Regions from separate parts of the Homo sapiens genome. Here region 2 is linked to region 1. The links come from fine-mapping of genetic effects on gene expression. A gene starts in region 1. The other region holds a variant in brackets. All regions are shown on one strand. Distances are from middle to middle. Region 1 holds the start of CDKN2B (cyclin dependent kinase inhibitor 2B). Region 2 has its middle 160 kb from the start of CDKN2B.

Region 1 (5,392 bases):
TGGAGCCATTTAAAGAAACACCTAATTGCAAAGTTTTCACCCAGTGCAGAGGTGTTCAGGTCTCTGATGTCTGGTGTTTCTTCATTTGCTGATGCAATCCACTTTCCCACCCCACCTTCAGGTTATACTCAGTACAAATTAAATGCCATTTTATTCTCTAAACGTGCAGAGACAAGAAAGTTGATGGTAAAGTGATGATCATCATTATGGAAAAACAAATCTTGATTTCCATTGGAACATGGGAATCTATTTTGTTAAATGATTTAGGGGCAGAGTTAAATTTATTCGGCTTTTAAAGTTTTAAATTATTTGCCTTGCTGACCCCTCCTCCATAATCCAGGTCTACAAATATTTATTAGGTAGTCAACTACTGTTTGTTAGAAGTTGGGAGTAATGGTTTAGGGGAGAAAATAAACAACTAAGTTTTTTTCTTTCTTTTTTTTTTAATTTATTTAGTTCTCATAGCAAATCCCGTGCGGAAGGCTTTTGTTTGTCATGTGTCTGAGCTCATAACTGGCTTGTAGTGTGATAATTTGAGCCAAAGTTGGAGATTAGAAGGGAAAAGTAAATTAAATCATGCAAAATCTTATAAAATTATAATAAATGATTTTTCCTTAACAGTTCATCATTTTAAATTTAGACTATAATATTTTTAATGTAATATAAAACTAACTATATTTGTATACTACAGGATTTTATAATAGCTAAGATTTAAAAATGTTAAACAGTAAATATTTTGCTATATAAAAAGAGCTTGGGCCAGGCCCAGTGGCTTATGCCTGTAATCCCAGCACTTTGGGAGGCCATAGCAGGCAGATCACCTGAGGTCAGGAGTTCGAGACCAGCCTGGCCAACATGGTGAAATCCCGTCTCTACTACAAAAAATAAAAAATTAGCTGGGCATGGTGGGGCGTGCCTGTAGTCCCAGCAACTCAGGAGGCTGAGGCAGGAGAATCGCTTGCATCCTGGAAGAGGTTGCAGTGAGCTGAGATTGTGCCACTGCACTCCAGCCTGTCCGACAGAGTGAGGCCTCATCTCAAAAAAAATAAAATAAATAAATAAATAAATAGAGCTTGGATGTTAGCAGTCAATCAGGATGATGCATAACTTAGAAAAAATGATGTTTTGCAGGAGTAATCCTGTAGCAGCCATTTGTGTACATGAACATTATGAAAACATTTGCTGTCATATTTAAAGTCAATTATAAGACAATTTTTGGTAACTAAATGTCTAAAATCGAGTTATTTGTTATGGGTTTATGCACTTTAAAATATACCATTTAATTGAAAGGCAGTATACTTCTCATGTTTTGTTGGCTTGTTTCATTAATATTAGAAATGTTCATTTCATCTCTTAAAAACCGTGATAAGTTATATCTACTAGTGATGTAAGGATATTTTACATAGAAAAAAAGGGGAAAATAGCTGCTGTTAGTATTTCAGAAAATGGTGAATTACATATATAACTTGTTTTTATAATTATTAATAAAATTTTAAGTTTTTAAGATGCACTTTACAATATTTTTGCTCCTTTAAAAATCCCTCATTTGTTATACCATTATTCTAAGAATTCAAAAGAAATGAACACTTCTTTAAAATCTATACTATTAACAAGATCCCTTAATATTAGCTTAGTTTTAGAGGGTGATAGTGAGGTGAGTACTGAATATGACCACTAGCCAACGGTAAAGTACAAAAGAGTTGTCCGAGATTGTAAAAGAAATAAAAAATATCAGTACTAATTAAAGCAGGATTCGTACTTAAACATTGAATAAGTGTATTTTAACAATGAAGATAAAGATGCATTATTTATGAAGATCCTTTGCCATTCAAAAAGGACCTAACAGTTGCTGCAGGAATATTTTTGTAATCTGGGCACTGAGTATGATAATTAAAGAATGAGAAACCTATAGAACTATATATTTTTTCTCTTATGCATCACTCATAAGACACTGCTAACATAAAAGGAACTAAGTACTGTGGTTGAGGAATCCCGTCTCATTCTCAATTAACCTCTATGAGAAAACAATACAACAGATTTCATATAGTAGCTTAGAAGTTTACATTGATTTTTTCCATGTACTATGATTTTGTAGAATTCCTTAAATCCAATCTAGAATGCGTAACTTATACTTTACTTATCTTTATCGTTGAAAGCAGACAGACAAGATAATCTTCTTCCCTAAATAAGCTTTCCTTTTCTCCTTTTCTCCCCAATTCAGTCTATTCCTTGCATCTCTGATCATGAGATGGCAGAACAAAAACCACTAAAAAAAGCTTAAACAGTGGGTTTTTCAATGTCTCTCTTTAGGATTTTTGCTGGGTAAAAGCCTGTTTTACGCGTGGAATGCACACCTCCGGCCAACGGAGACTCCTGTACAAATCTACATCGGCGATCTAGGTTCCAGCCCCGATCCGCCGAGGCCGCGCCCCGCGTTCGCGCGCCCCCTGCCGGCGAGGCCCTGGGGCCCCAGCTACCTGGATCGCGCGCCTCCCGAAACGGTTGACTCCGTTGGGATCCGCGCCGGCTTCCAGGAGCTGTCGCACCTTCTCCACTAGTCCCCGCGCCGCGGCGCTGGCCAGACCCTCATCGCTGCCGCCCCCACTGGGCATGCCCTTGTTCTCCTCGCGCATTCCGCAGCCCCCAGACGCGCAGCGGCCCGGATAATCCACCGTTGGCCGTAAACTTAACGACACTCTTCCCTTCTTTCCCACGCTGCTCCGGCGCACTCTCTCCTTCCTAGGAGACCTGGGCTCAGCTTCATTACCCTCCCGTCGTCCTTCTGCGGCTTGGGGCCCCGTGCAGTGGCCGAGCGGCCGGTCGTTAGCTCCGGGCTTTTCCTGGCGCTCAAGAACCAGCGGGCGCGCCTGGATTGCTTCTGGGAAAAAGCGCCTAGCGCGGACGCAGCCGAGCTCAAAGCCGCTCTGGCCGCAGGGTGCGGACGCGTCGCGGAGTCCTCACTGCCCCGCCTCGCTCTGGCAGAGTGGGGAGCCAGCCGGCAAAGAATTCCGTTTTCAGCTGGGCCAAGGGGCCGGCGTCTCCCCACCCCCTTAGGCTCCGCCCCCTGTCCGCTGTGATCGCCGGGAGGCCAGGCCCGGGCCGACGCGTCACGAGGGCGGGGAAGCCTGCCCAAAGATGCTAGGACGCATGCGCCAGAGACTGGGCCAGGGAGCCGCCAGGAATGCTGGCTGCACTGCTCGCTGGATGTCCAGTAAAGCCAAGGCTAATATTTTGGGAATGTTCACCACTGCCCTCAGCTCCTAATCCCCAGTAGGCGGAGCAGAGGATTTCTGTTCCTTCAGCCAGCCAGTTGGTTTCACTGTGGAGACGTTGGTGGCTCCCTTGTGACCGAGAGAAAGTCATTCAAAATAACTCCGTGTTTCTTAAGATGTCTGAAAGCGACAGCTCTGCACCTGTCATACAAGTTAAATTCATCCCCAGGCAGTACTTGGGCTTCACAAGTTTCATAACTTGTATCAAACTTAGCAATTTTCTCTTGGATGTGTCTTTCTGTTTGAATTAGTCAACCATAAAAATAGAGAAAAATCCCGAGAATCATGTTTTGCGTGTGCTTTTTAATTCTTTCCATTTTTGCATTATGGATACAACCCTTAAAAGAGAAAAAAACTAGTTCGAGATTGAGAGTGGCAACCTGGCACACATAAGACAAAAAAAAATTATACTTTAAGAATCTGAGATCCCAGTTTCATCATATTTGTACAGTAAATCTTTGTTTGCACTCTTACCTATTTAAACCCACTTTGTCAGGTATCTTATTTTTATTTATCATGAGTAATAAAGGAAATTTATGCAGTAATAATGAAACATCATAAGAGAGGGGTGTGGTGCTGGGCTTGTCATTAAACAGGCTGAACCTGTCATTAAATTCTCTTCTGAAGATTTAAATGCCAAGTGCTTTTTTTCCCCTTCCTAATCTTCCTAGGTGAGTTTGAATCAACATTTATTACTTAAAATATTTAAAACATTTCAGCGGATGCTACATTGGATAGGAAGAGAACCGCAAGTTATGGATTTGTTGCCTAAAAACTTTGGTGAGGAACTGCATAAGTGGACCTCTCCTAAAAGTGAACAATTTTTGTTTACAGAATCATTTTGGTTCGGAGTGCTGAGGAAGACAAAGTCTTAACAGGAGGGCAATTGCTTGTGTATTGCAAAATGAGAGTCTTCACATGTTTTTTTTAGGATACCTTAGCTCTGACTCCTCATCCCCCAAATCCCTGTAGAATTAAAAAAAGCTCTTTCTTTTAAAGGCAGTGGAAGTGCCACCACCATGGAAGTGCTGGTTAGGGCTGAAAATCTACTGACAGAGCCTCAACAGAGCTGAAATCCACCTGGACAGGGAAGGGAACCGGGTAGCATTAATAACAATTTCTTTTTCTTTCCCATCCAACCCCCATTTCCTAGTCTTCAGTTTCTTAATTTCTCTACCTTTTACTCTTATGCTCTTGTTTTGACCTTTGAGTTTCTCTGAAACTTATCAGAAAAGTTAGGACAAGATAGTCTGACCCAATTCTTGAGCCATTTTCTTAGGTAGTAAATATGTCAGAAAAATGAAAGCTGTTTGGAGTTGATAAGGAAATGGAAGATAATGTTTTTCTTTGAGGGGGACATAAAGAATGGTGATAGGGAAAGAACCAATGACTAAGTAAAATGACTGAGAATCTTGCACGAGGCAGATGTGTGAGCTTCGCGAAGCAAGTTGACTGAATGAAAAACAACTTTGGGTAGGGAAAACGTTGCCGGGGGCATTCGCGCTTACTAGCACCACGGACAGCGCTTTGCTTATACTCAGGCCTGGGTGGTCCTAACCAGCTCCAGACAGAATTCTAAAGCTTCACACTTGATCTTCCAAAGCCCCTTTTCTCCCGTCAAATAGAAAGGACATTATGGAAGCTCAATGAATTTCTTTGAAAAACCAACCTGCTCAACCTGGTTTTCAAATATGATTGGATTTTATCTAATATTCTCTGTATAAAGAATATTATATAGTCTATATTTAGAAGACGAGAAGAGAAATCAAACTTATTGTGTACTCTGTACGAAGTGCTTTACAGCTGTTGTTTCATTTAATACTCATAAAACTCCTCTGTGGCATGTGTCCATATTTCAATTTTACAGACAAGCCAAAAGGATCAGAGAATTTGAGTGACTTGTATACTAGCTAATCATTGTTGGAGGTGGGTATAACTTTTGCGACTTCAGAGTCTTTTTACCCTTTATACTACATAGTGTTTTTTTTAGCAGCTGTCATGGTAGGCTTAACTGGAAAAAAGTAATAAACTGGCTTATAATTATTTTTCAGTCTACACTGTGTTTTCCAGATGGCTCACCTCACAGCACACCCTTACCAGACTTCAAAGATGACATTTCA
Region 2 (5,392 bases), 160 kb after region 1:
TCAAAGAACTTCATGTCTTTGACTTATAATGCTCCTTCCTTAAATATACTCTATGATTTTAGTTGAAATTTCAAACAAACAACAACAAAATATAAATATATAATGTACATATATTTGTATTTTGATATTTTAAAAAAGCTTTTTATTATTGACATTTTCCATCAACATAAAAGTAGAAAGAGTATTATAATAAATCTCTATGTACTCACTACCCAGTTTTGAAAATTGTTAATATTTTTCTAGTCTTATTTTATCTATTTTATTCTCTCTCTCTACAGGATTACCTTAAAGCAAATCCAAAGCTTCTTATTATTTTATTTGTAAGCTCTCTGTATAATAAAAGCTTTAAAAAGTAACCAAAGGCTATTATTAAGTTTAAGAGAATTGAACAAGTTTAGGCTCAAATTTCTCAATTGTCTCAAGAATGTCTTTTTTACAACTGTTTTGTTCACATTAGAATCCAAACAAGGTCTACATATTGCATGTGGTATTCATATGGCCTCTTAAGTTTCTTTCAATGTATAACAGTTTCCCCTTCCCTCTTTCTCCTGTTACTTATTTGATAAATAAATTAAGTATTTTGTCCTGTAGAATGTCTCGCATTCTAGATCTAGTTGATGGCTACTTTATGGTATCATTTGTTTTTTTCCTCCTGTATCACTCTTATTTTCCATCAGCTAGTATTTAAAGTGGAAGGATTGATTAGAGTCAGGCTCATTTCTATTTTTATTTTTTGGCAAGAATACTTTATATCTGAGATTCTGTACTCCTGTTGTACGACACCAGAAGGCATGTAACTTCTGGTTACTCCACTTTTAGTGATGTTAAGATTTATTAGTAGGTTCTGGTGAGTCCTCCATTATCGAGGTCCTCACTGAAATTTTACCTAATGGTTATAACATTCATTAGTGACTGTTTCCTAGATCTATAATTTCATTAAGATTTATAAAATGGTATTTTTCTAACTCTGTTGATTATTTCACATTAATTAGATAGTAATTTTCTGTAAAGAAAATCTTTCTCTCTCCAACAATTTTTTACCCTAAAACAGTTCATGCTGAAAAAGCATGTATACACTTGTTTTTCCCCTCTATGAATCGATTTTCAGAATAATGAGTTGGTGACCTTGCAACCTCCATCTTGTTGGTTTATGATAGAGAAAACTGGTTAATAACATAAATGTCCAAAAATAGAAGATATATTGTGGTATGCCCATGCCGGAGAGCCATGTTGTAAATATTGTGCAGTCTTTAAGTTTCAAAGAATATTTAATAACACAGAAAAATATTCAGGATAAAGTGGAAGTAAAAAACCCCAGAATATGTACATAGTGTGATTCAAATGTTATCTAAAATATATGCATTGTAGAATGCTGTCTTAGCCTCAGACACTAACATGATTATCATAGGTTTGTAAGTTTTAGGGTCTTCCAACTTGAATCTTTGTTTTCTATAGGACCTTTTATAAAATACATGATTTTTGTCATTAAAAGAAAATGTAAATTTGTTTAAAAGGAAGGTCTCTGGATGGATCATCATACATGGAGAGATTCATGGGTGTTGATCTTTGCTCCCGCTTAATTTTTAATTTTTATTATAACTTTGAACCTTATCTCCTACATCTAAACCAGTCTTCATGGTGCTAACCGAGCAACTGGATGGATTGAAAACATGCTCAATTCTGTAGATTCTGAGACATCTTTTTAGTTAAACAGAACTCTTTCTGTTGACTCACATAATAAGAATATGGTCTTATTAAGTCATACTCATCTCAATTTGACCAGTTCAGAAAACAGATAACTGAATTACCTTTGTGTCTTTGTGTGTGTGTGTGTGTGTGTGTGTGTGTGTGTGTGTATTTTATCAGCTGATCCATTGATCCATATCAGATGAAGAAATGAACCACAGTCTCAAGATTCGGTCTTCCTGCTAGGGCCAGTTTGCTTGTTGCTGATGCAATGAGTGAAAGGAACTTTGCTTGTTGCTTAGTTTTATGATGAATGAAGGGAACAAACACACTGGTTTTTACTTTTATAAATTCCCAGTGATCCCCAAGAAAGTAACTGGATCCTCCAGGAAATCCCAGTGGCCTAGTTTCTATCAGTGTAAAATAAGGATCAGATGATATGACTCATAGGGCTGTTGCCAGCAGAATGTATGTAAAATTTCTGCCA[C/T]GATATTTAGCAATCAAAAAGTTTGCAACAAATGCTTGTTTTCTCTTCTCTCTTCCCAAAAATAAAAGGAAGCTGTCTTTTCCATTTTTACTATATTCTAATGTTAGAGAGCCAATTCTGGCATCAGACTGCCTAGATTCAAATCCAGCTCTACTCTTGGATTTGGGCAAGTGATATAAGTAAACTCTTTGTGACTCAGCTTTTAAATCTGAAAATTGGGATACTAATAGTGCCTACTTATAGACTGTTATGCATATTAAATGAGTTAGTGAATGTATAGTATTAAAACTTTTTCCTGGCATAAAATAGGAACTATAAGAGTATAAACTATTATCTTTTTTATCTGCCTAGTGGAAAAACATTTCCAAGCTCAAGGTTCAAGGCACCCCCTCCTTGGATGATGTAGGAGATGTACTCTGACCACTTCTTGTTTTTTACTTCTCTTTTTCTGGGTCCTATATAAACCTTCTTCTTTCTGTTGATGTATTTAATTCTTATAGCCACAAATTTAGATTTTGATAAATTAGATAAATGTTTTCTCCTGCATTATTAAGTGATTAGGATTATGTGAAGTTTGTCCCCTTTTCTTGTTGTCGTTGTAGTGGTCATGTGTGTGCCTAAGTGTCTGTGGGTGCCTGCATGTGTGAGTTGAGGTCCTGAAATATGGTATTACAGTCTCCCTGATAACTTAGGTGCAGTTGCAACTTTCCAGACATTTATTTTCTGACTAATCTTTCTTTTTGGTTAATTTCTACAGATTTTTGCTTCTGTCATGTGAAATTTTACTAGTATATTGCTCAAAAGGTAAACATGGCACTGTTCCTGGTAATGGGTGGGAATGGGATGACCTAACCTCTTCCAAATGTGTTTACAATAGAAGGATTATTAGATGAGTTTAGGAGAGGCTGCTGGATGGCTCAGAGATAGGGACAATCCACATGGATTCAAGGAAAATAATGCTTAGTTAGTATATGAGGAGCATGAGGTCCTAATGGAAGCATTACTTTCCAAATATAGGGACTGTATCAGAAAACGTTTCCTGCTCACAGTGAAATAAATAAATAGATCAAAAGTGGATATAATATACCCTCTAGGGCAGTAAGTTAAAATGATACCATAAAGTAAATTTTCAAAATGTGCTGCTGATGAGACCAAGATGGCCATCCTAATTAGTCATAGGCACCAAGGTGTTTCTCAAGTTCCCCCAAAGTGATCAGGGTGTGTGCCTTAGAAAAACAGAACAGTCATAGTTTAACACTCATATGATAATGTCATGTGGTTGAAACAGATCCAGTTATAGAAATGGAGTCTGGAAAAGTGAATGCCGATAAATAAAGCCTTTTCATCAGGCAGCCAGAAGTTCTCAGAATTCAAGGTAATTTGATTCTGAGGACAGGCCCCAGTTGACTGCATAGAAATAACTATCTAGGAAAAGGACAATTCATTCAGATACTCTACTCTATGGAAACGATTGATTAAGAGCATGCATGTCCAGCTGTTTTAATTCTGTGCTCACAAGGGCACAGACTGAGGTGCTGTTTGTTCTACTGATTGTTCATACCCAGCAGGAGAAAGTCATTTGTGCAAATGTCTGTTGATAGTGGTACTGTTAGTTGAACTTTCTATCTGGGGCAGATCACACAGGGCCTAGTTAGGCCACAGTAGCGATTTGGAGGGTTGGGAAGCCATTTGTGTATTTCAAAGGAGGAAGTGAGAGAAAAATGTGGTGCTATTTATAGATGTATAAAATGTGAAATTGGAAACATCATCTGCTTGAACTATTTTAAATTTAAAAAAGAGTCATTTGTTTTTCATTCACCAAAACTTTGGAAACCCTAAAATAGTGTGTGAATATACATGAATTGGCTTATGTGATTGAAGCCTGGAAATTCAGATAACAGTTGATATTGTAGTATTGAGCCTGAATTCCACAGGGCAAGAGGCTGGAGACTCAGCCAGGGTTTTTGTGTTGCAATCTTAAGGTGAATTTCTCCCTGTTCAGGAAACCTCAGTCTGTGCTGTTACAGCCTCCCACTGATTGGATGAGGCCCACCCACATTATGGAAGGCAACCTGCTTTACTCAAAGTCTACTAATTAAATGTTAATTGTATCTAAAAAATAGCATCACAGCAACATCTAGCCTGGTGTTTGACAAAACACTTGGCACCGTCAACTAGCCAGATTGACACAGAAAATTAACCATTCCAGATAATAAAGAATTTATGATATCACCCTCAGTTTAGAGGTGACTTTGTTAGCCAGGAAAGGCAATTGACTGTTTTTGTTTTAGGCCTGCAATCAGTAAGAGAGAGGACCGCTCTTCTTATCAGCTTCACACTTGGAAGGGGAGGCATAAGATAGCTAGAGCACTTTATAGCCCCTTGGAAGTCTAAGGTGATAAGCATGATTATTTGAACACAACCCTTTTTGTCCTATTATCACGCAACCTTTTTATTGTGTGATAAGTCAGTGATAAGGGCTGATGTCCCCTAACTTCATTATTGACATTAAAGAAACTTACTAATTGATGTTTTTATTAATTTGCTAATTAAAAAATGAATGCCTTCATTGCTAGTGAACAATCTTTTCTTCTTAGAAGGCAATATTTACAAAACCCATATGACCATGTTTAAAGAAGATGAAAAAGAATATTGGAATGAATTTTGGAAGGTCGTTAACAATTTTGTTTGAGGACAGAAAAGGGAGCGTTTCCTTCTTACTTTCTAGTTTTAGAAGTCTTTCCCTGTACATTGTGGAGTCATGGTGATAAATATACCATGGTTGGTGATAAATATACCATGGTTGGTGATAAATATACCAAACAACAGAGAAACCTAATATATATACAGCCCCAAGCTTATTAAATATCACCTAAGATTGACAAGAAAAAAACTAGTTTCTTAGAAAAAAATGGTATTTATTTACTTATTACTTTTTTTTTTCTTTTAAAGAGACAAGATCTTGTTCTATTGTCTGGGCTGGAGTATAGTGAAATGATCATAGCTCACTGTAGCCTCCAACTCCTTGGCTCAAATGATCCTCTCACCTCACCCTCCTGAGTTGCTGGGACTACAGCTGTGTGCCATCATATCCAGCTATATTTTTTATTTTTTGTAAAGGTGGAGTCTCACTATGTTGCCCAGGCTGGGCTTGAACTCCTGGGCTCAAGCGATCCTCCCACCTCAGCCTTCCAAGTAGCTGGGACTACAAGTGTTTGC

What was found. PIP is the estimated chance that this variant, and not a neighbour inherited with it, causes the effect.
Region 2: its variant is the best candidate, but not a certain one, in a credible set for the expression of CDKN2B in whole blood (TOPMed, PIP 0.73).

The regions. Positions count from the first base shown.
Region 1 is chr9:22,006,321-22,011,712 of GRCh38, forward strand. CDKN2B (cyclin dependent kinase inhibitor 2B) reads right to left here and starts at 2,985. Exons shown (of 2, transcript NM_004936.4): 1 at 2,478-2,985. The coding sequence starts at 2,633. All of the region lies in intron 1 of CDKN2B-AS1 (CDKN2B and CDKN2A antisense cis and trans regulatory RNA 1), which reads left to right. RefSeq lists silencers at 2,327-2,526, 4,650-4,944.
Region 2 is chr9:22,167,352-22,172,743 of GRCh38, forward strand. No RefSeq gene overlaps it. Among named protein-coding and RNA genes, the nearest start is that of CDKN2B, 160 kb to the left of the region's middle. The variant C/T (reference allele first, on the strand shown) is at 2,174.